4 linked regions of the Homo sapiens genome follow. The protein of the gene in region 1 interacts with the protein of each later gene in a pairwise test. Each region holds a gene or a part of one and is shown in the gene's direction. Other genes may lie near its edges. The genes, in order: IFT88, EML2, MSRB1 and KATNIP.

Region 1 (7,253 bases):
CTCGTGGCTGAACCAAACACTTGGCAAAGAGAATGAGATTCTCTTGACTTGCTTAGATTCTGCATGCAAAGAAGAAGGGCGGGTGGCAGGCTCTGTGTGGGTAGGTAGCCAACAGTGCCTGAATATAGATTGCATTTTTTTTGCATTTGATAGGGACAGGGTAAGTTACTTTCAGTGTCTTCATAAAGTTCTCTTACAGATTTTTAAGTTTAAAATTCTATGTTGATATTTTGAATTTAATAATAAAATCTGTAAGCAACATTTAAGACATACATTCAAGTGTTTCAGACAACTAGAAAATAGAATTCTATACTTCATGTAACCTTCATAAAACTACCATCTATTATGCTTACTGCTCAGTTAGAATTTTACAGATCTTTATAAACTAATAAACTTTGTAGTCTTAGTCCCAGGTTTCCTCAAAGAATATAATTTTATAGAAAAAGTTATGCTGCTCAATTTATTTCTATATACTTTTATAAAATCCATTTGTAGAGAATTAAGAGAACTACTATCTATTCTGATATAGCAGTAGTAAAATTTTATTTAGGCATTGATGTGTATTCAGAGTATTGTTGTATTTTGCCAAAAGAAAGTGGTAGCAAAACAACATTACTGTTATTTTGAAAGGTAACTGATTTGGGAATACTTGATTTGCTATTAATAGAGCCAGGATTTTTAAACTTCTTCACCTCATTAGAAACTTTCTCTATGGCCAGGCATGGTGGTGCACGCCTATAGTGTCAACTACTCAGGAGGCTGAGGCAGAAAGATCGCTTAAGCCCAAGAGTTCAAGCCGTAGTGCATTATGATTGTGCCTGTAAATAGCCACTGCACTCTAGCCTGGGCAACATAGCAAGAACCTGTCGTTTATTTTTATTTTTTTTTATTTTTTTGAGGCAGAGTCTTGCTCTGTCACCCAGGCTGGAGTATGGAGTGCAGTGGCGCAATATCACTCACTGCAACCTCTGTCTCCCAGGTTCAAGCAATATTCTCCTGCCTCAGCCTCCCAAGTAGCTGGGATTATAGGTGCCTGCCCCAACACCTGGCTAATTTTTGTATTTTTAGTAGAGGCAGGGTTTCACCATGTTGGCCATGCTGGTCTCAAACTCCTGACCTCAAGTGATCTACCTGCCTCAGCCTCCCAAAGTGCTGGGATTACAGGCAGGAGCCACCACGCCTGGCCATGTTACCTACCTTGACTGTTGTTATTATTTTACTATTATGAATAATTACATGATGTAGTTGTTAAAAACAGTACTACATTTGCTCTTTAATACCATGTATACATTTGTCTTATCTATAACTATTCTTGAAGTTTAAATGCACATTGTTCAATGTTGAAAGTAAATTAGGCTGGGTGTTGTGGCTCACACCTGTAATCCCAGCACTTTGGGAGGCTGAGGAGGGAGGATCGCTTGAGGCCTGGAGTTTAAGACCAGCCTCCCTGGGCAAGATGAGGAGACTCTGTCACTACAAAAAACAAAAACAAAATTATTCATGTATGGTGGCATGCACCTGTAGTCCTAGCTACTTGAGAGGCTGAGGTGGGAGGAGATGACCTGAGCCCAGGAGTCAAGACTACAGGCTGCAGTGAGCTATGATTGTGCCACTGCACTCCGTCCTGGGCAACCAAGTAAGACCTTGTCTGTAAAATAAAATAAAATAAAATAAAATAAAATAAATTTTAGTATAGATTTTTAGAGGTTGAATGATTTAAATTGTACCTGCTTTTGTCTTTAATAGCCCAGAGGAAAAAATAAAGCAATTAGAGAAGGAAGTAAATGAGTTGGTAGAAGAAAGCTGTATTGCCAATAGTTGTGGAGACTTAAAATTGGTAAGTTCATAAACAAGATTCAAAATTATGAAGCATTTATAGATGTATGTCTGCTTTTATACATACACCGTATGTATAGACAAATATTTTTGTTTGCCGTTGACTGGTCTTAGGATAAGAAGCAATTATTTTGAGAACCAGGAATTGTAACTCAGTTTCATAAATTTGAATGTCAGAATAATTGGCTGGTTTTGTAATTTTTGACATTGGCCTTTTCAGTAGGGAAAAAAATTCTAATGTATTTGTATACTTAACTTGGCAGCCTGGTGGACTATTGGATTAGATAGCAATATGCTGCTGAAAGGTGTAGCTACCATGAGCCACACACAGTACTAAGGGCTGTTTTCTTCTTGAAGTCTCTCTACTATCAAATATTTTTTCCTAAGTAAACTAAAAAATTAGTTTGCTTTTTGGGAATCTAACTTGGCTTTTTAAATATCAATCTTTACTTTTAATTTGCTTTGTTCATGTTACTTTGATTGTCATATCATATAAATATAATTTCTGTGAGTTATTGGATTAATGAATACCATTAGAAAGAAATGTTCACTTTAAAAAGCTGCTTTTACTACTCATAGAACTGGGGCTTTTTTTGTCATTCTAAAAAACAAAAAGTCCCTTTCCAAGGGAAGTTTCTGGTAAGAGCACACAGGGGTGTCTTGAGGAATCTGAGGATAGAAAATGAATTCATCCAACCTTCATGTAGATATTTCTCAAATGCATAAAAGTTGATGAACACTCAAAGGAAGTTACAAGGTATAAATCTGATTTCAGGCCTTAGAAAAGGCAAAAGATGCAGGAAGAAAAGAGAGAGTCCTGGTGAGACAGCGAGAACAAGTTACAACTCCAGAAAATATCAATTTGGATTTAACTTACTCAGTAAGTATTGAAATATAACACAATTTTTAAATAAAATTTTGACTAGGGTTAATGGGTTCCAGAGTCTTTTTTCTTTTATTTTTAAAATCTTACTGGTCTTCAGGTGCTCACAATTAGATTAATAATAATCTTTAGTTCATAAAACACTCTTGTCTTTGTTTTGTGCAAAGAGCTCTTTTCTTTAGTTATTTAACTAGTTATTTTAGGCTGGGTGCAGTGACTCACGCCTGTAATCCTAACACCTTGGGAGGTCAAGGTGGGAGGATTACTGAGTGAGCTCAGAAGTTTGCGACCAGCCTGGGCAACATAGTGAGACCTCGTCTCTATTTATTAAAAAATATGTAGCCGGGTGCCGTGGCTCACGCCTGTAATCCCAGCACTTTGGGAGGCCGAGGCGGGCAGATCACAAGGTCAGGAAATCGAGACCATCCTGGCTAACATGGTGAAACCCCATCTCTACTAAAAATACAAAAAATTAGCCGGGTGTGGTGGCGGGCGCCTGTAGTCCCAGCTACTTGGGAGGCTGGAGCAGGAGAATGGCGTGAACCCGGGAGGCGGAGCTTGCGGCGAGCCAAGATCTTGCCACCACACTCCAGAGCCTGGGCGACAGAGCGAGACTCCGTCTCAAAAAAAAAATATATATATATATATTTTTTTTTTGATAACTTGGTAAGTACCTGCAAACCTACCATGCAATGGCTCTATTTCTTGAAGAGCACTAATTTTAATGCTCTATCAAGGTGGTTATTTTGATGAGATTGTAATGTAGACTTTTCGGTCAGTGATTTTCAAGAACTTTAGGCATATAAAATAATGTTCTATGAGGGTAGTGGGGAAAAAAAACTAATGCCTCTAATTTCTAGCAACATTTATTTAATTCTGAAAAGACACCTCCATAATGTTTGCACTTCTGTTTAAAAGGGTGTATTTTCAGTGGGTAAAGGTTTCATATGCTAAACACATAGGAAAAAAAGGGCGTTTGAAATTTTGAAGTGTTAGATGCTTACTGTTTATAGCTGATACTCTACGATTCCATGAAATCTTTCAGGGATAATTTATGATGATCATTTTTTACCTTTAGGAACATAATTTACTATAAATTAATTACTTAAATTGTAATTTAGTATATAGAGCTTACTATACAGATTCTTCTGATAGACTTTAAGGTTTAAGATATTTCCACGTTTAATTTATATTTAGTTCACGATCTTGCTTATTTCTTTGATCACCAGCAGCATTAATGATACACATTTATTCTTTGTAGGTCCTCCAGAGATTAATAGATGGCAAATACTACTAAATTAAATAGAATACATAGAAAATTAAGGTGAAATTTAGAGGACAGGTCTTCTTTTCTTAATGTTCATTTGTAATGCAAGATAATTCTTTTGTTTACTTAATTTCATAATTGGCTGAGTATCTTGATATAAGTAGCTAACTTTGTTATAGGATTTTAATCTCTAGAAAGATTATAGGTGAAAGGGGCCTAAAGTGGTCTTATGTGTCTTTTCTATAATATTTTCTTCCTTAGGTTCTTTTCAATTTGGCCAGTCAGTATTCAGTTAATGAAATGTATGCCGAAGCACTTAACACTTATCAAGTTATAGTCAAAAATAAGATGTTTAGCAATGCAGGTAAGTGTACATAATCAGTTTTTCCAATAGATGTAATTCTTTCGTAGTGTTAATTTATGTCTCTTCATTTTATGCTTCCTTAAAATGAAATGATCTATGCTCTAAACAAATCAGTATTTATGATAGGGGTATCCTGCTTAAACATACTATTTATATAAAAATCCTTACAGATGAAGAAATATAGTTAGTATGAGGTATATTGCCTAATAGTATCCTGTTATCACAAGTAGAATGAGCCATGACATCCTCATAGAATGTGCTTTTCCTTATATAAATTTATCCCCAAGAGATTATAGTTTATATTTAGCATTTATATTGTGTAATTTTTTGGTAGCAGTATTAATGTTTATCAGAATGTCGTTTCCTTTAATATTATTAAAATGTATGTGGCATTCTTGAGTCTAACTTTTAAATGTCTTTAAGTTCCATGTTTTCTTAGAAGAACGCACAATAATGTAAAGCACAATAATGTAAATCAGTTGTTTTCTAGCCATAGTTTCAGGAATCTGTCTTAAGTTCCATTTCTTCACAGGAGGTAAGTTTGAAAAGTATAACTGTTTTAAAGTTAGAATTTTAGATAATATCTGAGACTTCATAACTGAGAAATGCTTCAGAGAATATGAATTAAAAGTCATCTAAAATATCAAAGAGTGGAAAAATGAGAGTATTATACATTCATTAAATTTTTTTAAATTAGGAATATTGAAAATGAATATGGGAAATATCTATTTAAAGCAAAGAAATTATTCCAAAGCCATTAAATTCTACCGAATGGCATTAGACCAAGTTCCAAGTGTCAATAAGCAAATGAGGTAAGTTTATAACAATAGATAATAATTGTAAAATTTAAGTGTTTTTCTGAAACAAGATAACTCTTCTGACCTGTTTTCAGTGGGTTGAACATTTCAAAGTGTTTGTACATGAGATTTATACGTGTAGTATTTTGATCTGTTCCCTTCTTACTACTTGTACACATTTTTATAATGACAAGTTAAAGGTTAAAGCATTGTATATGATCATATGAAATAAAACTAAGTGACCAATAAAGGGGTTAACCCTGAAGGCCATTACTACCCTGATATAACTTAATGCGGACACAAAATCATAATAGCAGTCCTCCAGAACATATCAATACAAGGCTAGAAATTAAGCTCCCCTTACGTTCTTGCTGTAGCTTGAGAATGAAATAGAGAAAAGGATTACTTCTGAGTCTTAGAAGAGGGGGAAGCTGGGATATTTTCTATTATAATATTCAGGAGCAGAAACAGTAAGTTCTCTTATGGTCTAGTGATAACTGTGGGGACATAGGAAGTTTCCAAGATATTTACTGATCATAATTTCCCCTAGGCACAGTACAGTTTCTCTGTGAAAGTTAATTTATTTGCAATACCATCTTTTAAGATCATTCGTTTTTGAATTTTACATAATATCTCATTATCATTAGCAAATATTATCTAACTTACAGAACACAATGCCCTTGAAGTACTTTTAAGCCAGGTGAGACCAAGAATTTGAGCATTTTAGAAAAAAAATTGTATTGAGTAACATATATTAAGTGCTTCATAATCAATAATCAAGACAATGGGTGCTATAATAATTCAGTGGAAGAAATCATTATTGAGAACAAGAATGATCAAGAAAGGCTTTATGAAGGAGGCATACTTGATATTGACTCTTTAGGAGGAGAGAAGGGATAACATCTGAGAAAAAGGCAACACCTGAGACCAGTCAGGGAAATAATAGTCTTTATGATCTGATCAGAGAATTATGAATAAACTAATTGAGTTGAAATAGAGGGATTATATTGAGGAGTGTTTAGAAATAAGGTGGGATCACATCCATTAGAATGGCTCCAATCAAAGAAACAATAAGTTTTGGTGAGTATTTAGAGAAATTAGAAACCTCATTCACTGAGATGTCAAATGGTGCAGCTACTTCGGAAAACAGGCAGTTAGCTAAAAAAGTTAAAACACAAATTTACCATGTGACCAGCAATTCTGCTTTTAGGTATATACCCAAGAGAAATGAAAATATAGATCGTCACAAAGGCTTTTACACAAACATTCATAACAATTATTCATAATAGCCAAAAAGTAGAAACAAGACGAATGTCTACCAAGTAGGCAATGTATAAATAAAATATGGTATGTATTCATACTATGAAATGCTATTTGACAAAAAAAGGAATGAAGTACTGATACATGCTACAAAATGGAAGAATCTCAAAAAATTATGCCAAGTGAAAGAAGCAAGACAAAATATCACAAATTGTATGACTCCATTTATGTACAATGCCTAGAAGAGACAGAGAGACAGAAAATAGACTAATGGGCCGGGCACGGTGCCTCATGCCTGTAATCCCAGCACTTTGGGAGGCCGAGGCGGGCGAATCACCTGAAGTCAGGAGTTCCAGACCAGCCTGACCAGTATGGTGAAACCCCGTCTCTACTAAACATACAAAAATTAGCCCGGCGTGGTGGCATGTGCCTATAATCCCAGCTATTCAGGAGGCTGAGGTGGGAGAATTGCTTGAACCCAGGAGGCAGAGGTTCCAGTGAGCAGACATCATGCCACTGCATTCCAGCCTGAGCAACAGAGAGAGACCCTGTCTGAAAAAAAAAAAAAAAGACTAATGGTTACCTAGGGCTGGGAATAAGAATGGGGAATGACTGTTAATGAGCACAGGTTTTATTTTTAGGGTAATGGAAATGAATTAAAATAAGGATGTGGTTATAGTTCCACAACTATATAAATACAGCAATAATTATCGAATCATATACTTAAAATGAGTGAATTTTATGGTATTTATATAAAGCTTTTATCAATAAAGCTTTAACAAAACAAAAACGAAGTAAAGTGGGAGACGAAAAAAGAAAACTATTTGTGAATGGTTTGAATGCCAT
Region 2 (7,002 bases), on another chromosome or scaffold:
TCCTCATAGCCCCCCTCCCCCTCCCCCAGACGGGGCGTACCTGGCCGTGGGCTCCCACGACAACTTGGTGTACGTGTACACGGTGGACCAGGGCGGCCGCAAGGTCAGCCGCCTGGGCAAGTGCTCGGTGAGTGGGCAGTGGCCCCCAGCCCGCGCCGCCACCCCGCCCAGGGGGTGCAAAATTAACCAATTTTCTACCTCAAGGGAGCGCAGCTTCAACACTCAACTGATTCTGCCCTGATCAGAGCAAGGAGTCTTGGCCACGTCCACACATTCACCACCTCGTGTGTTCTAAGCCCGCCCCTTTGTGTAGCCCCGCCCCCACGTGCTAAGCCCATCTGTGTAGCCCCGCCCCTCACGTTCCGAGACCGCCCCTCACGTTCCGAGACCGCCCCTCTGTGTAGCCCCGCCCCTCAACATTCAAAGCCAGCTCCTCCGTGTCTAGCCCTGCCCACCTGTTCTAAACTCCCATTGTGTTCTAAGTGCTTTTTGTCTAGCCCTGCCCATCACAGTCTGGCCCCGCCCACAGTATTCTGGCCCTGCCCCCATACTCCAAAGGCCTGTGTATCCTTCCTTTAGTCCCCTTGTGTTCTCGCCCTACCTCTGTATTTGACTTCCACTTTCCTGATTTAATCCTGTCCCCCTCTCCTTGGTTCCGCCCTCTGCAGCTCTAACACCATCCCTTCCCTCCCCCGCAGGGCCATTCCAGTTTTATCACCCACCTGGATTGGGCCCAGGACAGCAGCTGCTTTGTCACCAACTCCGGGGACTATGAGATTCTGTACTGTGAGTTCTCCGGGACCCAGAGACATTACTTCCTCCGTCTCATTTGCAGACTTCCCTGAGTTCTGGGAGGGGAGGGAGGGGCTTCAAGCCTCGCTCCCTTGGTATTCAAGGCTGGTTCTGATTTGGAATTTAGGGACCGCTGGCTTCTCATTTTCTCCCTGGTATACCCCACTTTTAGTCAACTCCTCCCCTTTCCGGTCGGATGGGTAGGATGCAGGTTTCTTTTTTTACATTTTTAAATTTTTAATTATTATTATTATTATTATTATTATTATTATTATTTTGAGACGGAGTCTTGCTCTGTCCCCCAGGCTGGAGTGCAGTGGCGCGATCTCGGCTCACTGCAAGCTCCGCCTCCCAGGTTCAAGTGATTCTTCTGCCTCAGCCTCCTGAGTAGCTGGGATTACAGGAGCACACCACCATGCCCGGCTAATATTTGTATTTGTATTTTTTTTTTTTTGAGATGGGAGTTTCCCTCTTGTCTCCTAGGCTGGAGTGCAATGGCACGATGTCGGCTCACTGCAGCCTCCGCCTCCCAGGTTCAAGCGATTCTCTTGCCTCAGGCTCCTGAGTAGCTGGGATTCCAGGTGTCCACCACCACGCCCAGCTAATTTTTAAAATATTGTTAGTAGAGACAGGGTTTCGCCATGTTGACCAGGTTGGTCTTAAACTCCTGACCTCAGGTGATCCGCCTGCCTTGGCTTCCCAAAATGCTGGGATTACAGGCATGAGCCACCACACCTGGTCTAATTTTTGTATTTTTAGTAGAGATGGGGTTTCACCATCTTGGCCAGGCTGGTCTCGAACTCCTGACCTCAGGTGATCCAGCCAGATGCTGTGGCTCATGCTGCCTCCTGGGATTACAGACGTGAGCCACCATGCCCGGCCAGATGCGGGTTTAAAAGTAGATGCTCCTGCTTACGCTGCGGGCTGTGAAGACCCCAGCATGTGATGCCTTCTCAGCCAGTCCTGACAGGTAGAATGAGCCCTGGGACCTTAGCCTCCTCTGTCTTGGACCTCAGCTCCGATTGTCTAAGAAAGGGATGGGTTTACTGGGTAGTTCTTCCAACTCTGAATGTCTCCTCCCATTTTCTGCCCCAGGGGACCCGGCTACCTGTAAGCAGATCACCAGTGCGGATGCTGTGAGGAACATGGAATGGGCCACAGCTACTTGTGTCCTAGGGTTTGGGGTGTTTGGTGAGTTCTGGAATGAGAGAGGTCTCACTGAGGACAGTAGTTCTGAGAGACATCCCCGCTGGTGGTTTCCAGAGTCTTACTGCTTACCTCCAGTGTGGGAAGCTCACTGCTTTACTGCATGTGGGCTGTATTTGTGTAAGAGGAAAGGGTAGGGTGAGATGACTCATTAGAGCTGTAATAAAATGAAACCAAATGGGCGTGGTAACTGGCCAGGAGAGATCCACACTGCCGGTGCCCTAGCCACCCATTCATTCAGGCACGAATGAAGCAAACACATATTCCCTGAGCAGTTCTGTGCCTGCCGTGGGCTTGGCAGTGACCATGACTGACGGCCCTGCTCTCCTGTGGCTCTCAGTCCAGTGGGGGAGGCAGACTTGTCCCCAGACAGTGATGACCCAGAGTGAGCAGGTCTGAGACAGGGAAACCCAGGGTGGGGCATCTGGCCTACTCTTGGAGGGAATCAGGGAGGGCTTCCTGGAGGAAGAGACATCTGAGCTAGGACCTGGAGGATGAGGAGTTACTTTCCAGGGCAGTGAAGAAGGAAAGCAGTCTCTTGGCAAAGGGAATAGTACATACAAAAGCCCACGCGTGACACAGAACTTGGCATTTGGAGAAATGCAGGGAGGCAGGGTGGCCAAATCATTACAGAGTTTAACAGGAGCACTGATGAGGGATGAGGCTGGAGCAGTGCATGGGGCCTGCTGAGCCTTAGAACCACAGGCTTTCTTCTAAGATCACCAGGGAGCCATGGAAGGGTTTTAAGCAGAGCAGGGGCAGGCTCGGATTCACATTTTAAGGTAATTCTGACTCATATCCTCGGATAGATACAGGCTAGGTCGGAACAAATTAAGGTGGCTGGAGTGGCAATCTGCTCCTCTTGGCGGTCCCTGGCTCCAGCTGACATCTTACCACTTCCCTTCATCTTGCCCACAGGGATCTGGTCTGAGGGGGCGGACGGCACTGATATCAACGCTGTGGCCCGCTCTCATGATGGGAAGTTGCTGGCTTCAGCTGATGACTTTGGCAAAGTTCACCTGTTTAGCTACCCCTGCTGTCAGCCTCGAGTGAGTCCCTTGGGGAGATGGGGATGGACGGGGGTAGCAAGCAGGGGTGGGGACAAAATTCAGGCAGCTCTGGTCCAACCCCACCCCTTCTCTGAGCCTCGGTTTCCCCATCTGTACAAGGAGGACAGTAGTCTTGATCCCAAGGGCCTTTCTTAACCCCAAGGTGGATGAATTTCAGTGTGTCATGGTGAAGACCTGGTTCTCTGAAGTTCTGAGCAACTGCAATTCTGAGCTCTTTGGTTCTTTTATCCTTGTTAACTCAGTAAATATTTATTGAGCACCTACTATGTACCTAGGCACAGGATATACAACCAGATCTTATGAGTTTTTAAGGGAGGCCAAGGCCAGTTGCAGTGGCTCACACCTGTAATCGCAACACTTTGCAAAGCTGAGGCAGGAGGATTGCTTGAGGCCAGGAGTTCAAGACCAGCCTGGGCAACAAAGTGAGACCCCATCTCTACAAAATACACACAAAATTAGCTGGGCATGGTTGTGCATGCCTGTAGTTCCAGCTACAAGGAAGTCTGAGGTGGGAGGATTGCTTGAGCCCAGGAGGTTGAGGCTGCAGTGAGCCATGATTGCACCACTGTACTCTAGCCTGGGCGACAGAGCAAGACTTTGTCTCAAAACAAAGACAAAAACAAAAAAAAAAGCTGGACGTTAATTTTACCATTCTCTGGTTCTAACAGAAGAGGGATTGTTTCAGCATTTTCCTAGGAAATTTTCATGCATAAAAGCAGAAAGACTAGTACAGTGACTCCTCCTGTACCTGTTACCCATGTTCAACTATTACCAGATTTGGTATATTTATTTCATTTGTTTCTTCTTTCTCCTTTCTCTTCTTTTTTTATTTTTTATTTTTGAGACAGGGTCTCACTCTGTTGCCCACGCTGGAGTGCAGTGGCATGGCACAATCTCGGCTCACTGCAGCCTTGACCTCCTGGACTCAAGCGGTCCGCCCACCTCAGCCTTCTGAGTAGCTGGGACTACAGGCGTGCACCACCACACCTGGCCAATTTTTGTATTTTTCATAGAGATAGGTTCTCTGTTGCCCAGGCTGGTCTTGATCTCCTGGGCTTGAGCAATCCTCTCCACCTTAGTTTCCCAAAGTGCTGGGATTACAAGGCATGAGCCACAGTACCTGTCCTGGTCTGTAGTTTTAAGAAACTGCATATGTGGCCGGGTGCGGTGGCTCAAGCCTGTAATCCCAGCATTTTGGGAGACCAAGGTGATGGATCACCTGAGGTCAGGAGTTTGAGACCAGCCTGACCAACATGGTGAAACCCTGACTCTACTAAAAATACAAAAGTTAGCAAGGCGTAGTGGCAGGCGCCTGTAATCCCAGCTACACAGGAGGCTGAGGCAGGAGAATTGCTTGAACCCAAGAAGTAGAGGTTGCAGTGAGCCAAGATCACGCCACTGCACTCCACTAAGCAACAATGCACTGAGCGATAGAGTGAGACTTTGTCTCAAAAAAAAAAAAGAATACAAAAATACAAAAATTAGCCAAGCCTGGTGGTGCACGCCTGTAATCCCAGCTACTGGGGAAGGTGAGGCGGGAGAATTGCCTGAACCCGGGAGGCAGAGGCTGTAGTGAGCGGAGATCGTGCCACTTTACTCCAGCCTGAGCGACAGCAAGGCTCCGTCATAAAACAAAAACAAAAACAAAAAAACCCACACACACGAAAACGCATAGGTTATCTTTTAGCCCTCTAAATTGAGCATTCATGCCTAAAAAAATAAGGATAATTCTGGCCAGGCCCGGTGGCTCACGCCTGTAATCCCAGCACTTTGGGAGGCCGAGGCAGGCGGATCACCTGAGGTCAACAGTTCGAGACTAGCCTGGCCAACATGGTGAAACCCCGTCTTTACTAAAAATGCAAAAAAATTAGTCATGGGTGGTGGCGGGCACCTGTGATCCCAACTACTCAGGAGGCTGAGGCAGGAGGATCACTTGAACTTGGGAGGCGGAGGTTGCAGTGAGTTGAGATTGCACCACTGCACTCCAGCCTGGGCAAAAGAGCGAGATTCTGTCTCAAAAGAAGAAGAAGAAGAAGAAGAATTGTTACATATCCACAAGCCTCTGACCACTCCTAATTAACATTAATTTCTTCTTCTTTTTTTTTTTTGAGACAGAGTTTCACTCTTGTTGCCCAGGCTGCAGTGCAATGGCGCGATCTTGGCTCACTGCAACCTCCGCCTCCTGGGTTCAAGCGATTCTCCTGACTCAGCCTCCTGAGTAGCTGGGATTACAGGCATGCACCACCATGCCCGGCTAATTTTGTATTTTTCAAATAGAGACAGGGTTTCTCCATATTGGTCAGGCTGGTCTTGAACCCCCAACCTCAGGCGATCTGCCTGCCTCGGCCTCCCAAAGTGCTGGGATTATAGGCGTGAGCCACCACGCCCAGCAACATTAATTTCTTACATGCCTCATCCCTAGGAAGGCAAAAACAAAACGTTAATTCCTAAATATGATCTCATAGCCAGTACATATTCATATTTCCCTGATGTGCCCCAGACTGGCCTTCTATGGTTGGTTTGTTTGAACCAGGGTCCAAACTACATTTGCTTATGTCTCAAATCCCAGCATGTAGAATAGCCTTCCCCACGTGCATGCTATTTCTTCTATTTATGCCATTAACTTGCTGAATAAACCAATTCAGTTGCCCTGCTGGGTTTTTTGTTTGTTTTTGTTTTTTTGACAGAGTCTCCCTCTATCGCCCGGGCTGGAGTGCAGTGGCACGATCTCGGCTCACTGCAACCTCCGCTGCCTGGGTTCAAGTGATTCTCATGCCTCAGCCTCCCAAATAGCTGGGACTACAGGCGTGTGCCACCACGCCCGGCTAATTTTTTTGTATTTTTAGTAGAGACAGGGTTTTACCACGTTGGCCAGGCTGGTATCGAACTCCTGACCTCAAGTGATCTCCCCAACTTGGCCTCCCAAAGTGCTGGGATTATAAGCATGAGCCACCACGCCAGGCCTAATTTTGTATTTTTAGTAGAGACGGGGTTTCACCACGTTGGCCAGGCTAGTCTTGAACTCCTGACCTCAAGTGATCCACCCCCACCTCGGCCTCCCAAAGTGCTGGGATTACAGGCGTGAGCCACCATGCCCAGCTGTTCTGTTGGTTCTTTTTTGTTTGAGACAGAGTCTCACTCTGTCACCAGGCTGGAGTGCAGTGGCACAATCTTGGCTCACTGCAACCTCCGACTCCCTGGTTCAAGTGATTCTCCTGCCTCAGCCTCCGAAGTAGCTCGGATTACGGGCATGCGCCACCACACCCAGCTAATTTTTATATTTTTAGTAGAGAACGGGGTTTCACCATATTGGCCAGGATGGTCTTGATCTCCTGACCTTGTGATCCGCCTGCCTCGGCCTCCCAAAGTGCTGGGATTACAGGCGTGAGCCACCACGCCTGGCCTCTGTTGGTTCTTAAACAAAGGGCTTATTAGCCCTGGTAACACTGGGACACCCCATTGCTATAAAAGGAAAAAGAATTAGCCAGGTGTGGGGGCGCATATCTGTGATCCCAGCTACTTCTTGGGAGACTGAGGTGGGAGGATCCCTTCAGCCCAGGAGGTCAAGGCTGCATTGAAGCTGTGCTCATACCTAAGTGACTTCACTCTAAGTGATTAAAAAAAAAAAAAAAGAGGAAGAGCAGAAAAGAACCGGGTCAAGACAAGAGGACCATGATGGGGTGGCATTGTCCCCACTGACATTTCTTCACTTACTTCTTTCCTTGTAACAGGCCCTCAGCCACAAGTACGGTGGACACAGCAGCCATGTGACAAATGTGGCCTTCTTGTGGGATGACAGCATGGCCCTGACCACAGGGGGCAAGGACACCAGTGTGCTACAGTGGCGGGTGGTCTGATGCGGCCAGGGAAGAGTCAGGTGTCAGGGCAGGAATTCTATTTTCGGGAGATGTCTATTGCCGAGTAGAGTAATATA
Region 3 (8,053 bases), on another chromosome or scaffold:
GCTGGCCGGGGGGCCTGGTATACATGTAGGGGGCATGCCCCAGCCTCAGCTGGACGCTCCCTGCCCCAAGGGCTCAAGATTTTTGCCCCACAGCTGGACGCTGCCCCGCCAGGCACACTGGACAGAAGACCTTGACAGCTGGGCAGTGATGTGGGACCCTTGCCTTGGCTGTCCAAAACATTTGGATATAGTCACAAGCAAGAAATCTCTGCTGCGTCCCACATCCTCCGAGCCTCCTCTGGAGGCAGCTTCCACTCCAGCTGCTGTCATGTGGGTGTGGAGTGCGGCAGCTCCTACTGTGGCCTGGGAGTCAGGCCACCTGGGCTCAAACCGCATCTCCAGGACTTAGCAGCTGTAGAGGCTGGAGCAAGTGACTCCACTCCTCTGATCCTCAGTCTCCCCCAACAAAAATGCAGACTGTCAAGTGAGATAATGCATGAAAAGGACTTAGCTTGTGACTCAGATGCTGCCCTCAGTAGGGGCGGCGTGATAGTCACCCCTACATCTGGGGGCTGGGCACGGGGCTCCTGCCTATCACTGCCCCCTCTGGGGGTTCTGCTAGGGCCCCCAGCCACCCACTAACTCAGAAGCCCTTTCCGGGCCTGGCCTCTGACCTGTGTCCTCTGCAGGGTGGCTTCCCCCACTACGGGGAAGTGAACAACGACTTCGTCATGCTGAAGGGTTGTATTGCTGGTACCAAGAAGCGGGTCATTACGCTGAGAAAGGTTGGCAGTGCTGGGTGGGCTGGGGAGTGGGTGCCCGAGGGCTGCCAGCCTGTCCTGCCCTGCGGCCTGCTACGAGCGGGATGGAGTGGTGGGAGCAGAAGGGGAGGGCTCTGGTAGGAACTAGGTGAGCAAGACCTTCCTGGTGGGGCTTGGAGGTTCACAGCAGGGTGTGGGGGATCCCCACACTTGATGTTTACTTTACCATGGATTCCCCAGTCCCTCCTGGTGCATCACAGTCGCCAAGCCGTGGAGAATATTGAGCTCAAGTTCATTGACACCACCTCCAAGTTCGGCCATGGCCGCTTCCAGACAGCCCAAGAGAAGAGGGCCTTCATGGTGAGCTCACCGCCCCCATCCTTGTTCTTCTCTGGGGCTCCAGCTCCACATCCAGCCTGCCCGAGTAGGGAGCTGGAGCTGGCAGGGACTCCCCTGAGCTCAACTGCAGGAGAGACTCTTTTTTTTTTATTTATTTTATTTTTTGAGATGGAGTCTCGCTCTGTCACCCAGGCTGGAGTGCTGTGCCGTGATCTTGGCTCACTGCCACCTCCACCTCCTGGGTTCAAGCAATTCTCCAGATTCAGCCTACCCAGTCGTTGGTACTACAGGCACGTGCCACCACGCCAGGCTAATTTTCTGTATTTTTAGTAGGGATGGGGTTTCATCGTATTAGCCAGGATGGTCTCTATCTCCTGACCTCATGATCCGACCGCCTCGGCCTCCCAAAGTGCTGGGATTACAGACATGAGCCACCGTGCCCGGCCTGCAGGAGAGACTCTTAAGGGTCTATCCCTGGGCACTGATTCTTTAGAAGAGAAGGTGGGGGAGGAAGCAGCCTTAGGGGGGCAGTAGGGCCGGCCCTGAGTGATCTAGAGCCTGGCTGGGGGAGGGCGTGTTTCTGGCCAGAGTGACTAAGGCTCCTCCTGCACCACCCTCTCAACCAGGGCCCCCAAAAGAAGCATCTGGAGAAGGAAACGCCGGAGACCTCGGGAGACTTGTAGGCTGTGTGGGGTGGATGAACCCTGAAGCGCACCGCACTGTCTGCCCCAATGTCTAACAAAGGCCGGAGGCGACTCTTCCTGCGAGGTCTCAGAGCGCTGTGTAACCGCCCAAGGGGTTCACCTTGCCTGCTGCCTAGACAAAGCCGATTCATTAAGACAGGGGAATTGCAATAGAGAAAGAGTAATTCACACAGAGCTGGCTGTGCGGGAGACCGGAGTTTTATGTTTTATTATTACTCAAATCGATCTCTTTGAGCATTTGCGGAGCAGAGGTTTTTTTTTTTTTTTTTTTTGAGAGAGTCTTGATCTTGTCGCCCAGGCTGCTGGAGTGCCGGGGAGCAGAGTTTTTAAGGATAACTTGGCGGGTGGGGAGAGCCAGTGAGCCAGGAGAGCCGATTGGTCAGGGAGGAAATCACAGGGAGTCAGCTGTCTTCTTGCGCTGAGTCAGCTCCTGGGTGGTGGCCACAAGATCAGATGAGCCAGTTTATCAATCTGGTTGGTGCCAGCAGATCCATCAAGTTGCAGGGTCGGCAAAATATCTCAAGCACTGATCTTAGGGGCAGCTTAGGGAGGGTCAGAATCTTGTAGCCTCCAGATGCACGACTCCTAAACCATAATTCCCAATATTGTGGCTAATGTTAGTCCTAAAAATGCAATCTAGTCCCCAGGCAAGGAGGTGGTCTGCTTTGGGAAAGGGCTGTTACTGTCTTTGTTTTAAACTATAAACTGGCTGGGCGCGGTGGCTCACGCCTGTAATCCCAGCACTTTGGGAGGCCAAGATGGGCGGATCACCTGAGGTCGGGAGTTCAAGACCAGCCTGGCCAACATCGAGAAACCTCGTCTCTATTAAAAATACAAAATTAGCTGGGCGTGGTGGCGCATGATTGTAATCCCATCTACTCGGGAGGCTGAGGCAGGAGAATTGCTTGAACCAGCGAGTTGGAGGTTGCAGTGAGCTGAGATCGCGCTACTGCACTCCAGCCTGGAAACAGAGTAAGACTCCGTCTCAAAAGAAAGAAAGAAAGAAAGAAAAAAACAAAAAACTATAAACTGAGTTTCTCCCAAAGTTATTTCAACCTACCAGCAGGGATGAATAAGGACAGCTTGGAGGTTAGAAGCAAGATAGAGTCGGCTGAGTTAGATCTCTTTCACTGTTTCAGTCATCATTTTGCAAAGGCGGTTTCACCTGGGCGCGGAAAGGCTGCATGACCTCCGGCAGCTCCGGGCTTAGTACCAGGGACTGGACTGGGGGGACACGACCCTACGGATTCGCGCCGTCGCCCACCTGGCCAGGCCCCATGTGCGCCCCTAGCCACCAGGGCGCGAGGGGCGGCAGGGGCGGGGCCTTGGGGAAGCGGCCTAGGGGTGGTCCCTGGGAGTTTCCATGGGCGGGGCCTGCTGGGGAGATGCGATTGGACTGGCACCGGGGGGCGGGGCCTTGGGGAAGTGGCCCAGGAGTGGTCCCAAGGAGTCAACGTGGGCGGGGCCAGCTGGGAAGATCGTATTGGACCAGCCCTGAGGAGGGGCGGGGCCTCCCGGAGGCGGAAGCCGGGATTCGCCCTCCGGGGAGCGATTGGTCCTCGGGAGGGGCGGGGAGGTGGACGCGGGTACCGGCGGTCGTCGGGTCGGCAGCCTTTGGTCAGTTGGCAGCGGCAAGCGCGCTGCGGTTCCGGTGGCGCCATGTCGTTCTGCAGCTTCTTCGGGGGCGAGGTTTTCCAGAATCACTTTGAACCTGGTTGGTCCTGCGGCCTCTCGCTGGGAGGGCAGCGCGGCGGGGGGCGCGCATTAGCGGGGGCGCCGCCGTCGTCCGGGGGTGATGTCTCTCCCAAGCCGGGAATGGGGGCGAATGTGGCTGCCGGGGAGAAGCGAACAGGGGTCAAAAGGACTGCGGAGGAGTGGGGAGCCTGGGGGCGAGGAGAGTGGGGTACCCGAGGAGAGGGGGCCTTGGGGCTCACCGTCCTGGAGGGGGCAGGCCTCGAGTGTGAACGTGCCGTTTCGGGGGTGGGTCTAAGGGATCGGGATACGTGGGGGTGGTACCCCTTCCCTACCCCCTACACTCCAAAGTGATGGCGCTGGGGGAATTCGGGTTAGGGTCGGGGCTTCGGAGAGGCCAGGTTCTTGTCCAGGGCCAGCTCCTGTGGCCGGGGCGCCCCTTCGCGGGTCATCCCGCAGGTGTTACCCTGGCCCTTCCCATTCCCCCGAGTCCGGGATCTCTGGGAGGAGTCTGGCAAGCATAGAATGTCCCCTTCAGATCCTAATGTGCCGGCCCAGGTGCCTCCCCACCTGCCCAGGGACTCCAAATTGGGGAACCAGGAGTGCCACCAGGCACCTGCCAACAGCCCGTGAAGTTTGACCAGGCAGGCAGGATGGGGTGGTTTGGGGCATGGCCAGCCCTCCACACTGGCCCTGATGAATCCCTTCTGGGCTGGGCTCGCCTGGTAGTGGACTAATTTGGTAAAAACACATCCACAGGCAAGTCTGAGTGCACTGGTCTCCTTGGGCGGATCTGCTGGGTGGCACCCCTGTAGCGGGTTGGGCTGTGACACAGGACCATCCCGGCAAAGCCTCCCCCAGCAAGACTCTCTGGCTTTAGATCCCAGTTGTCCTCAGGCTGCTCTGCCAAGCCAGAAACTCCACTTCCACAGCAGCTGCTGGCTTCTCTTTGCTTTTTTCTCCAGTTCCTGGAAAAGGCTGGGTAGTTTACAGTCTCCAGGGGAGGCTGTCCCCAGGTGATGGGTGAGAGGTGACTCAGCACCCCTGGAGGTTCCTGTTTTCAGTCCTTAAAACAGTTCTGCAAGTCAGTTTTGCAACTTTCCCACCCCCTCCACTCCAAAGGGATCCTTTGTGGGTAGGCTGAAATCTGTTGTCCCCAGCCCTCTTTCTTCCTGGGCTCCTGTGTGGCCTGGAGGCCTTTTCTCTGGGACTGTTCTCTTCCTGCCTGGAGAGCAGAGCAGTGCCTGGGTATCCAGCTTAGGGCCTCGTTGGGCAGCAGGGAGGACCACTTGAGAAAGGAGAGGGACCAGGTGGTTGGGCCACATCAGGGCCCCTGCCCTCTATGTTCCTGGGGGAACTAGGGGGGCGAGGGGGAGCTCCGTGTCCTCATTGGACTACCCAGGTTCCTTCACGCTGCACACACTTGTAGCTGAGTGTCTGCATCACCAAGCAAAGATGGAAATGTTAGGATATGCCCCGTCACGGGGCTATGAGAAGAATCAAGGAGATAATTGTGAAAGGTGACTCCCCTGGTCTCTGGCACATCTACTAAACGTGAGCTCAGCACAGCGCCTCCCGTGGCGGGTGCCTGGGGAAGGAGCACAGCCTACCCTCGGAACGGGGGCAGCGCTGTCTTTGCCTGGGTTGGTGGATTTGGGAGCTTGACCCCGGAAAGGCGGGAGCTGATGACTCCACATTTGCCTCTCCTTCCACCACAGGCGTTTACGTGTGTGCCAAGTGTGGCTATGAGCTGTTCTCCAGCCGCTCGAAGTATGCACACTCGTCTCCATGGCCGGCGTTCACCGAGACCATTCACGCCGACAGCGTGGCCAAGCGTCCGGAGCACAATAGATCTGAAGCCTTGAAGGTGAGAGGCCACAGGGGTGGGGGAGGGACGGGGGCGGCCAGGGAGAGCAGAGAGCCAGTCCCACCTTCCTCCCTCTGCTTGCCCCACAGCTCCAGGGGCTTAGAGGCGTCTATTCCAGGCCTGTTGCCTCTGCCAGGGAGCTGCCACCCCAGGCTATCGGGAGAGCCTGGCCTTCTGGTGCAAATGTGGGAAACAGGACAGGTTTCCTGTACGGGCTCCAGGACAAAGGTCAACCTCTTATGTCGGCGGTCAGCTTGGGAAATAGGCGTGTGGGAAGAAACACCATCTGCCAGCCCCAGTAAGGGCCTTCACTGTGGCTGTATCATGGCCAGAAGCTCACCCAGCTGCCTTGTGATCTTTCCAGGTGTCCTGTGGCAAGTGTGGCAATGGGTTGGGCCACGAGTTCCTGAACGACGGCCCCAAGCCGGGGCAGTCCCGATTCTGAATATTCAGCAGCTCGCTGAAGTTTGTCCCTAAAGGTGAGCTTGCTTTGCACAGCTGGGGCCAGGCCTGTTGGCCTTTGAGCCCAGGCTGGGGGGCCCAGTGTTTGTGCTTGTCCACTTACCATGACAAGGTATGGGGCCACCAAGTCACGCTGCCTGGGAACTGTCCAGGATCCCCCAGAAAGGTGGCTGCAGCGCAGGGGCAAAGGAGCTGGTGTTCCGCTTCCTCGCTTGGTTGATCATGACTGTCCCAAAAAGGGGCTTCAGCGTGAGAATGTGGCAAATGGTTTTCCTCAGAGGCCTGGCCTTTCCCAGAGGCTAGAGTCAGGGGCGGGGCAGGCAGAGCCTGAGGCCCCAGTCTGTGCGGCTGTGTCTCCCACTGGCTAGGACTGTGGCCTTGCTTCTTAGCCGCTCAGAGCCTGCCTCCTCCTCTGCAGAGTGGCGGTGGTAGCAGGGCTGTGAGGACAGCTGCGTGTCACGTGCACCTGGGCCTGGCACACAATAATAGCTTGATGAATCCTCATCCTTTTTTTTTTTTTTTCTGAGATGGAGTCTTGCTCTGTCGTGCAGGCTGGTGTGCAGTGGCGCGATCTCAGCTCACTGCAACCTCTGCCTCCTGGTTCAAGCAATTCTCCTGTCTTGGCCTCCCAAGTAGCTGGGATTGCAGGCACGCATCACCACGCCCAGCTAATTTTTGTATTTTTAGTAGATACGGGGTTTCACCATGGTGGCCAGGCTGGTCTTAAACTCCTGACCTCAGGTGATCTGCCCACCTTGGCCTCTCAAAGTGCTCGAATTATAGGCATGAGCCACCACGCCCAGCCCACACCTGGTTAATTTTTAATTTTTTTTTTTTTTTTGGTGACAGAGTCTTGTTCTGTCACCCAGGCTGGAGTGCAATGGCCAATCTCAGCTCAATGTAGCCTCTGCTTCCCAGGTTCAAGTGATTCTTCTGCCTCAGCCTCCCGAGTAGCTGGGATTACAGGCTCCCACTACCGCGCCTGGCTAATTTTTGATTTTTTAGTAGAGACGGGGTTTCACCATGTTAGCCAGGCTGGTCTGGAACTCCTGACCTGAGGTGATCTGCCTGTCTCAACCTCCCAAAGTGCCGGGATTATAGGCGTGAGCTACCGCACCCAGCCAATTTTTAAAATTTTTATAGAGATGGGGGTCTCACTATGTGGCCCAGGCTGGTCTTGAACTCCTCTGGGCCTTGGCCTCCCAAGGTGCTGGGATTACAGGCTTGAGCCACTGCCTCGCCTGAAATGGGGCTGTTAACAGCACACGCTTGTGGCCATCACCGTGCTGTGGGGTTGAGCGAGCAGCCTGTCAGGATCTGGTGCGTGGTAAACCTGCGATGTTTTCGTCCTTTTGTTGTTATTTGTCCTCCGTGTGAGTGGAGGGAGAAGAGATTCTGGGTTCTCCTGTGGATGTCAGAACAAAATGGGGTACACAGACTCCCCTGAGTCGGGCATCTGGTCTTTTCAGCTCCCCTGTGGCCTGCAGGCCAGGGCAGAGTGTGAAAGCGCAGGGAACGGCACCTGAAGCTCTGCCTTGCAGTGACTTGCTTTCTGCCCCTACCCTGGCTTTCCACCGCCCCCGCGCCCGGCTTTCCGCCCCTGCTTGCTTTCTGTCCCCGCATACTTTCCGCCCCCTCTCCTCTCTTTCAGGCAAAGAAACTTCTGCCTCCCAGGGTCACTAGGCGGGCAGCCCACACCCACCCCAGACGGCCACCACACTGAGGCCACACGTTGGCCATTCCACCTTGGAGTTGGAACCCTGGGCGTCGAGACAGGAAGGCAGGGCGCAGTGGTTGAAACATCAGGACACTCCCAAGGCCCCGGCTCTGAACAAGACCTTTTCGTTTCTTGGAAAAGAGACTCATTTGCTGATGGTTCATGCCTTCTGCTGGGACAGGCCTGGGCTGTGCAGCCACACTGTCGGCTGACTTAGCCCCCTGCTCACTCTAGGTGCCTCCAGGAGGTGAGCCCTGGGTGCAGCTGGTCTCTGAATGACGTTACACCCTCACCTTCTTTTCCTGGCCCTGTCTCTGGACTCTCCCCTGTGAGGCCCAATTCCAAGACAGACTCTCGTCCTCACCGAAGCTTAGGCCCACATCTCCCAGGCTGCTTAGGAGACAGAATGGAAACGGAGGCCGCCCCTGCCAGCCGCCCTGGCCCTGGTCACTGCATGATCCGCTCTGGTCAAACCCTTCCAGGCCAGCCAGAGTGGGGATGGTCTGTGACCTGCTGGGAAGGCAGGCTGATGGGGCACACCCTTGGCCTCTCGTCCACGAGGGGAGAAACC
Region 4 (7,253 bases), on another chromosome or scaffold:
CAAAATCCATTGCAAAGGGTGTTTGAGGCAGCATGAACAAAAGGCATAAAAATAACTCTAGTTAAAGAAGGAAAAAAAATATTCACACCAAGGAAACAAGAAGGACACACACACACACACACACACACACACACACACACACATATGCAGAGAGAGAGACAGGGTTCTAAAGGTTAAGGTTAAGACATTCGGCAGGAAGGAATTTCATGGTGCACTTCATGGAAGAAGACAGAAGAAGGGAGAAAGAGCCTGGGGTTAAAGCCCTGACGACTGGAGGGGGAGGAAGCAGGCTGGTTCTTGAGGAGAGAAAGGATTTTCCCCCTGGATCCTTTCGTAAAGATGTCCTTTATACAGAGCTGCACTGAGGGGGCGCAGAGGAATCCAGACTCGCAGAATCTTCCATCCTGCTTTCCTCATGGGGCAGATGTGACTCTCATACAGCCTCTAAGCACACCCTTGTGGTATAATGACACTTATGCGGTATATACGTAAATATGTAGAAAAATGTCTTGAAGAACTGGAACCCACACACATACGCACACCCACCACCCAGTGGAGGTGGAGGTGGGGGCTGGGGTGGGGTAGGAGACAGTTAGTCTATAAGGACTTATTTATTATTATTATTATTATTTTCTTTTTTGAGACAGAGTTTCCCTCTTTTGCCCAGGCTGGAGTACAGTGGCACAATCTCGGCTCACTGCCACCTCTGCCTTCTAGTTTCAAGTAATTCTCCCGCCTCAGCCTCTCCAGTAGCTGAGATTATAGGTGCCTGCCACCACGCCTGGCTAATTTTTGTATTTTTAATAGAGACAGCGTTTCTGGCACCTCTGCAGAGCGGTCTCAAATTCCTGACCTCGTGATCCACCTGCCTCAGCCTCCCAAAGTGTTGGGATTACAGGTGTGAGCCACTGCGCCTGGCCCATAGGGACTTATTTAAAAAAAAAAAAAAAAAAAAAGGCCAGGTGCAGTGGTTCATGCCTGTAATCCCAGCACTTTGGGAGGGCGAGGTGGACGGATCACCTGAGGTCAGGAGTTTGAGACCAGTCTGGCCAACATGGTGAAACCCCATCTCTACTAAAAATACAAAAAATAGCCGGGCGTAGTGGCGTGCCTGTAATCCCAGCTACTCGGGAGGCTGAGGCACGAGAATCGCTTGAACCTGGGAGGCAAAGATTGCAGTAAGCTGAGATCACACCACTGCACTCCAGCCTGGGTGACAGAGAGAGACGTCTCAAAAAATAAAAATAAAAATTTAAAAAAGGGTAGGGGCTCAGAGCTCCACCGGTACAGGTGCTCCTAACAGTGGCTAGGCTAGCATGGGCCAGGACTGTGGCTTTCTTGGAATCTAGCTTGACCCACAGAAAGATGGTGGTTAAGACCTTAGCATGCCAGCCATAGTGGCTTACCACATACCAGCTGTGTGACCTTGGGGAAGGCATGTGCCTCAGTTTCTCCATCCATAAGATGGGGCCCTAATGCTTCCCTTGCAGGATTGTTCTGAGGATGACATAGGACAAGGCAGTCTGTTATCCTTTAAACAGAATATCCAGAGAAGTGACTAATATTCCCTATGGGGACCCCACTCTGGTGATCCTTGGGCCACATCTGCCCATGAATGTGGCTTGTTTGGCCTGCAGAGTGCTGGAAACCTTTCAGAGCTCAGAGCTGCCAGGCAGGGTACGACCCTCCCACCTCCCTGTGACCCCTGCATACCACTGATTTCCACCTGAGCCCACTCCTCTCTTACAAGCCTGACCCCTGCCTCCGCCTGCTTCCCTCTCTCAGTTCCCTCTCCGCCAGACGTCTTGGTGGGAACAGGGCTGGAGGTCAGATGGGCTCTGGACTGGGGAAGGAAGATGGGTGGCCATGTTGTGGAAGCCGGCCACCCTATTAGGAAAGCTAGGATGCCCACCTTGTGACTGTGCTGGACTAGATGGTTTCCCCATCACCCACTACCTCTTTAAAGGAAGGTGTTTCTGTCTCACCAGATATCCCTGTGGCAGTAATTTTGCAGAACCAGTCATTGAAAACTGCCCATGCTGTCCTTCTCAAATAGCTGTTCCCCGGTGAATTCACAGCACGCACTTGCTCTGTGCCTCTGCTAAACAGAGAATCCATCCATATAAGCAGGTAAAAGAGTGCTTTGAGAATCGACTTTTCTGACAGTCGGCAAATGGTAGCCTGCCATCTGCAATTGGAGGATTGAAGCCGAGTTCCTGTGGCGTAACGCAGGCCGGACAGTTCTCCTTCTAAATTGCTGCGGAAACCTCTGTAACTCAGTGATCCTGAAATTTGTTAGCTCCTACTCACCTAGCTTTCAGGAAGGCTAAGAAGGGGTTAGTATAGGTGAACATCTCCAGGGTCTCAGATTCTGTCTCCCAAGAGCAGATCAGAAGCCAAGGCAACACGGGAAATAAACGATCTGGAGGTGAAACCCACAGGCCGCCGCTTTTCTGATCAGGTTCATTCTTAGAGCACTGTTGAGACAGCAGTGCTGTTCAGGAGAGAAAACCCATGTTTATTCATTTGCTATTCCAAAGTAATTTATTTATTTATTTTGAGACGGAGCTTCACTGTCGTCACCCAGGCTGGAGTACAATGGCACGATCTCAGCTCACTGCAACCTCCCCCTCCCAGGTTCAAGTGATTCTCCTGCCTCAGCCTCCCGAGTAGCTGGGATTACAGGCTCACGCCATCATGCCTGGCTAATTTTTGTATTTTTAGTAGAGACGGGGTTTCATCATGTTGGCCAGACTGGTCTCGAACTCCTGACCTCAGGTGATCCATCCACCTCGGCCTACCAAAGTGTTGGGATTACAAGCATGAGCCACTGCGCCTGGCCCAAAAATAATTGTTGGGTGGCTACAATGTGCCCTTGGACAAGACGGGCAGGGCTTCAGCTGTCTTGGAGCCTAACTTTGAGTGGGAAAAACAATAAATAAGTTAAAAGCTGATAAGCAAGACCATTCAGAGACTAAAAGGAAATAAAACAGGGCAATAAGATAAAGAGGGGACCGATGAGGTGGGGCTGCCCTAGAGGTGTGTTCACTGAAGGTCCTGAACAGAAGAAGGAGCAAGGCTGTGGGCATCTGCGGCAGAACACGCCAGGCAAGTGCACAGGCTCTAAGGCAGGAGGAACAGGCTGAGCCACATCAAGGAATCGAGGCAAGCGCCAGGAGCCGGAGTCAGAGAGGTCAGCAGGCACCCCTGAAGGGGAGTAGGATTTCTTGTCAGTGCCATAGGAAGTCACTGGGCAGCTTTAAGCAGGAGGCTCCCATGATCTGATTTCAGTTGTTAAAAAAAGACTCACTGCTGTGTGGAAAATGAAGTGAGTGCAGGGTTTGGGGGAGACAGCCCAGAGTGGAGGCAGAGAGACCAACTAGGAGGCGATGGTGGTGTCTCTGGGGGAGACCCTGGTGGCCCAGGCAGCAGCACACGCGGGCAAGGAGGTCAGCTCCAGGGCGTGTTCTGGAGAGAGAGCCGAGGGACGTGCCCACATACTGGATATGAGTGAGAAAGTGAGAGGGGACGAGGGGACGGCAAGCTTTTTAGCAACCGCTCGAATGATGGACCCATTTTTAAGATAGTTTAAGACTAAGTGTGGAGAAAGTGATTTCAGAATTCTGTTTCAGGCACACCAGGCACATTGACTCACACCTGTAATCCCAGCACTTTGGGAGGCCAAGGCAGGAGGATCCCTTGAGCCCAGGGGCTCAAGACCAGCCTGGACAACATAGTGAGACCCCGTCTCTACAAAAAAAAATTTATTTTAATTAGCTGGTCGTGGTGACGTGTACCTGTAGTCCCAGCTATCCAGGATGCTGAGATGGGAGGGTCACTTGAGCCCAGAAATTCAGGTTGCAGTGAACCCTGATCGAGCCACTGTAACGCCAGCCTGGGCAACAGAGCAAGACCTTGTCTCTTAAAAAAAAAAGAGAGCATTCTGTTTTGGGCATTTTATATTGGAATTCCTGTTAGATATCCAGGAAGAGAGGCCAAGCAGTCACTTGGGGCTTGGTGGAGAGGTCAGGGTTGGAGATGAAAATAACTGGGAGCCTGGGACCTGAATGAGACCACCTGGAGAGCAAGGGAAGAGCACTCGGGAGGCCTAGGACTGAGCCCTGGGCAGCCTAGTCGTTCAAAGTGCAGCCGAAGAAAAGGAAGCAACCCAGGAGTCGGGCAGGCTCAGCCAGCGAGGCAGGAGGAAAGCCAGGTGGGTGCAGAGCCACACAAGCCCCAGGGAGGAAAGTCATCGCAAAGGAGGGGAAGCTGCCGAGTACTGCCGAGCCGCCACACCCACCCACTCCTAGGAGAAATTCCTATTGCGTATGGCAGTCAGCTGGACCCTGTAATTTACTTTAGGAACCAGACACTTCTGAGAGTCATTAGTAATGACACCAGGATAACAGATATAAATCAGAATTGTCCCAGACAAACTAGGATGGCCCGTCACCCTAGTTACAGGTGCCCGGGCCAGGTGGGTTCCATGTGGAGGTGGAGGCAGAAGCCCAACGGGAGGAGGAACAAGGGGTAGTGGGAGGAGGAGCCCACGGGGACAGTGACACTCAGAGATTCACTGACGGGGTGACGGACAGATCATGCGGGGGGCCCTGCAATGGAATATTCCTTAGCAGTAGAAAGGAAAGGAACTATCAGTTCCCATAACACAGGTGAATCTCAGAGCAGTTATGGTGACTGAAAGAGCCGAGCAAAAAAGACTACATGCAACATGATTCCTTTATGTAAACATTCCAGAAAGGACGATCAGTATATAGGGAGGGACCATAAGTGGGTGGTTGCCTGGAGCCAGGGAAGGAGGAAGGGGAGACAGGGGTTACCAAGGGGCACGAGGAAACCTTAGGGTGATAGGTACGTTTGTTCTCTTGAGTGTGATGGCTTCATTGGCGTAGACACATGTTAAAACTGATCAAGCTGTACCCGTTAAATATGCACAGTTTATTGTATGGGGTGTGTATTCTATTCCCCGATAAAGCTGGAAAAAGAGTTTTGCTGTAAAGAGGATGACACAAGTGAAACAGTAGCAGGAGATGTGATTTTATCTTAAGCATGGAAGGAAGAGAGTTGAACCTGCGTGACATAGGGGCATTTAGGCTGGCAGTGAGAGAGGAGAGCGAGGTGGGGACCATTTGTGAAGGTTACTGTATGTCATGTGGAGAGCTTTGGAATTTATCCCATCATCGGCATGGTTCTGCACCCCGTCGTGTGAAGAAATCATCCGGAGAACTTGTTCTGAGTCCAGAAGTTACCTACAGGCTGCCTTGAGGCAGTGGTCCTCACACGGCATCCTCCTGGCTCCCTTCCAACTGCAGCTGCCGTGAACATGGGACAGTCCCCGCATGTGGACAGTGCCCTGCCTCAGGTGCTCGTGGGGTGCTCTGCCGTGGGAGCACACTCAGCTCGTGCATGTGTTGGGGCATCAGTGCCCTGAGGGCAGCCTTCAACAAGCAGTGGATAAATGTCCCAGTCTTGGAGAGACATTTGCGACATGCATTTAAGCAGAAGACTCCCATGATCTGATTTCAGTTAAAAAAAAAAAAACTCACTGCTGCATAGAAAATGAAGTGTGAGTGCAGGGATTTGGAGGAGACAACGCAGAGTGGAAGCAGAGAGACCAATTAGGAGGCGGCAGTGGTGTCTCTGGTAGAGACCCTGGTGGCCTGGGCAAGGAAGGCAGCAGCACATTCCAGGTAAAGAGGTCAGACCCAGGAAGTGTTCTGGAGAGAGAGGCGAGGGACAGCTGGCGGATTGGATGGGCAAGTGAGAAAGAGAGGGATCAAGGGGGCCACGAGGTTTTTGGCCACTGCTTCAATGATGGAGCCATTTTTAAGATAGGTGAAGACTAGGGTTGGGGAAAGTGAGATCTTGGAGTGCCGCAGAGGGCCCCCGTGGGAAGGAGCACCAGTTGGCCACAGCAGTGACCAGCTCAAAAAAACTGGGTTTTTCCTTTTTCCTGCCCTATCTTGCTTTCCCCATTTCCTCTTGGAATCACCTGCCAAATACTCGACTTGCACCCGAGTCCTTGTCTCAGCCTCTGCTTTTACGGTCTCCCAATTATGATGCCCACGGAGGCCAGGAAAGCTGTTTTATAAGCACTCCAGGCTTTTCGACGCAGATGGTCTCAGGAACTGGACTTTAAAGAACACTGCTATAGGCTGTGAAAAAACATGAAGGATTTCACACAGGGGAATGACTGGACAGATTTGCTCTGGTAGGAAATGAACTCTGGTGGCAATGTGAAGTCCAAGTTAAAGTAGCAAGAGACAGGAAGCAGGGAGACCCATTAGTAGGCTATTACGAATGTCCCGACAGGAGGTAATGATGACGAAGGCAGCGATTGAGGCCGTCTCTTTGTGAAAGTCCTTTGATTTATAGAGTATGTAGCGGTTCCCACAGAAATGAGACCAAGCCTAGTTTCACACCCCCAGCACTGTGGTTTTCAAAAGCTTGCATTTCTAGCATTTCACATTTTCTTTTCTTTTTTTGGTATCTTCGACTTCCAAAATTTCATACATCAGTCTGATGCTATGCATCTTCACTTTGTTAAATCTTATGGTTTCAGGATCTTGACATTGGTGCCAAGAACGTGAAGCTTTACGTCAACAGAAACCTCATCTTCAATGGCAAGTTAGACAAAGGAGATAGGGAGGCCCCAGCTGACCACAGCATCCTGGTTGACCAGAAGAACGAGAAGAGCGAGCAACTAGAGGAGGCCATGAACGCTCACTCGGAAGAAAGCAAAGGCACCCATGAGATGGCTGGTGCCAGCGGGGACAAGGAGCTTGGTCTCGGTTGCTCACCGCCAGCTGAAACATTAGCGGATGCAAAGCTTTCTTCACAAGGAAATGTGTCTGGCAAAAGAAAGAATTCTACTAATTGCAGGAAAGACAGTTTGTCCCAGTTAGAGGAATATTTGAGACTGTCGGCAGTCCCCACTTCGATGGGTGACATGCCCAGTGCTCCTGCCACTTCCCCACCTGTGAAGTGCCCTCCTGTCCATGAGGAGCCCTCTCTCATCCAACAACTGGAAAACCTCATGGGCAGAAAAATCTGTGAGCCACCCGGGAAAACCCCATCCTGGTTACAACCTTCTCCCACCGGCAAGGACAGGAAGCAGGGAGGCAGGAAGCCAAAACCCCTCTGGCTTAGTCCCGAGAAGCCCCTGGCCTGGAAGGGCAGGCTCCCATCAGACGATGTCATCGGTGAGGGTCCTGGAGAGACCGAGGCCAGGGATA

Evidence for each region.
Region 2: the proteins of IFT88 (region 1) and EML2 interact in a two-hybrid assay, tested with the Homo sapiens proteins (one large-scale study listed by BioGRID).
Region 3: the proteins of IFT88 (region 1) and MSRB1 interact in binary tests that used the Homo sapiens proteins (3 or more experiments, as listed by UniProt).
Region 4: the proteins of IFT88 (region 1) and KATNIP interact in a two-hybrid assay, tested with the Homo sapiens proteins (one large-scale study listed by IntAct).

The regions. Positions count from the first base shown.
Region 1 is NC_000013.11:20,594,404-20,601,656, forward strand, and holds part of IFT88 (intraflagellar transport protein 88 homolog), read left to right. Parts: intron 1-1,746; coding exon 1,747-1,837; intron 1,838-2,611; coding exon 2,612-2,716; intron 2,717-4,247; coding exon 4,248-4,350; intron 4,351-5,047; coding exon 5,048-5,162; intron 5,163-7,253. UniProt on the Homo sapiens protein: Positively regulates primary cilium biogenesis. Also involved in autophagy since it is required for trafficking of ATG16L and the expansion of the autophagic compartment.
Region 2 is NC_000019.10:45,609,586-45,616,587, reverse strand, and holds part of EML2 (echinoderm microtubule-associated protein-like 2), read left to right. Parts: intron 1-29; coding exon 30-127; intron 128-698; coding exon 699-786; intron 787-1,887; coding exon 1,888-1,983; intron 1,984-2,916; coding exon 2,917-3,047; intron 3,048-6,799; coding exon 6,800-6,925; 3' UTR 6,926-7,002. UniProt on the Homo sapiens protein: Tubulin binding protein that inhibits microtubule nucleation and growth, resulting in shorter microtubules.
Region 3 is NC_000016.10:1,938,507-1,946,559, reverse strand, and holds the start of MSRB1 (methionine-R-sulfoxide reductase B1), read left to right. Parts: upstream 1-3,360; 5' UTR 3,361-3,403; coding exon 3,404-3,458; exon of another isoform or gene 3,459-3,575; intron 3,576-3,678; exon of another isoform or gene 3,679-3,766; intron 3,767-5,154; coding exon 5,155-5,271; coding exon of another isoform or gene 5,272-5,303; intron 5,304-5,667; coding exon 5,668-5,780; coding exon of another isoform or gene 5,781-5,782; intron 5,783-7,416; coding exon of another isoform or gene 7,417-7,488; 3' UTR 7,489-8,053. Other genes in the region: RPL3L (ribosomal protein uL3-like), read left to right, coding at 630-725, 942-1,061, 1,667-1,723. UniProt on the Homo sapiens protein: Methionine-sulfoxide reductase that specifically reduces methionine (R)-sulfoxide back to methionine.
Region 4 is NC_000016.10:27,733,461-27,740,713, forward strand, and holds part of KATNIP (katanin-interacting protein), read left to right. Parts: intron 1-2,034; exon of another isoform or gene 2,035-2,130; intron 2,131-6,580; coding exon 6,581-7,253. UniProt on the Homo sapiens protein: May influence the stability of microtubules (MT), possibly through interaction with the MT-severing katanin complex.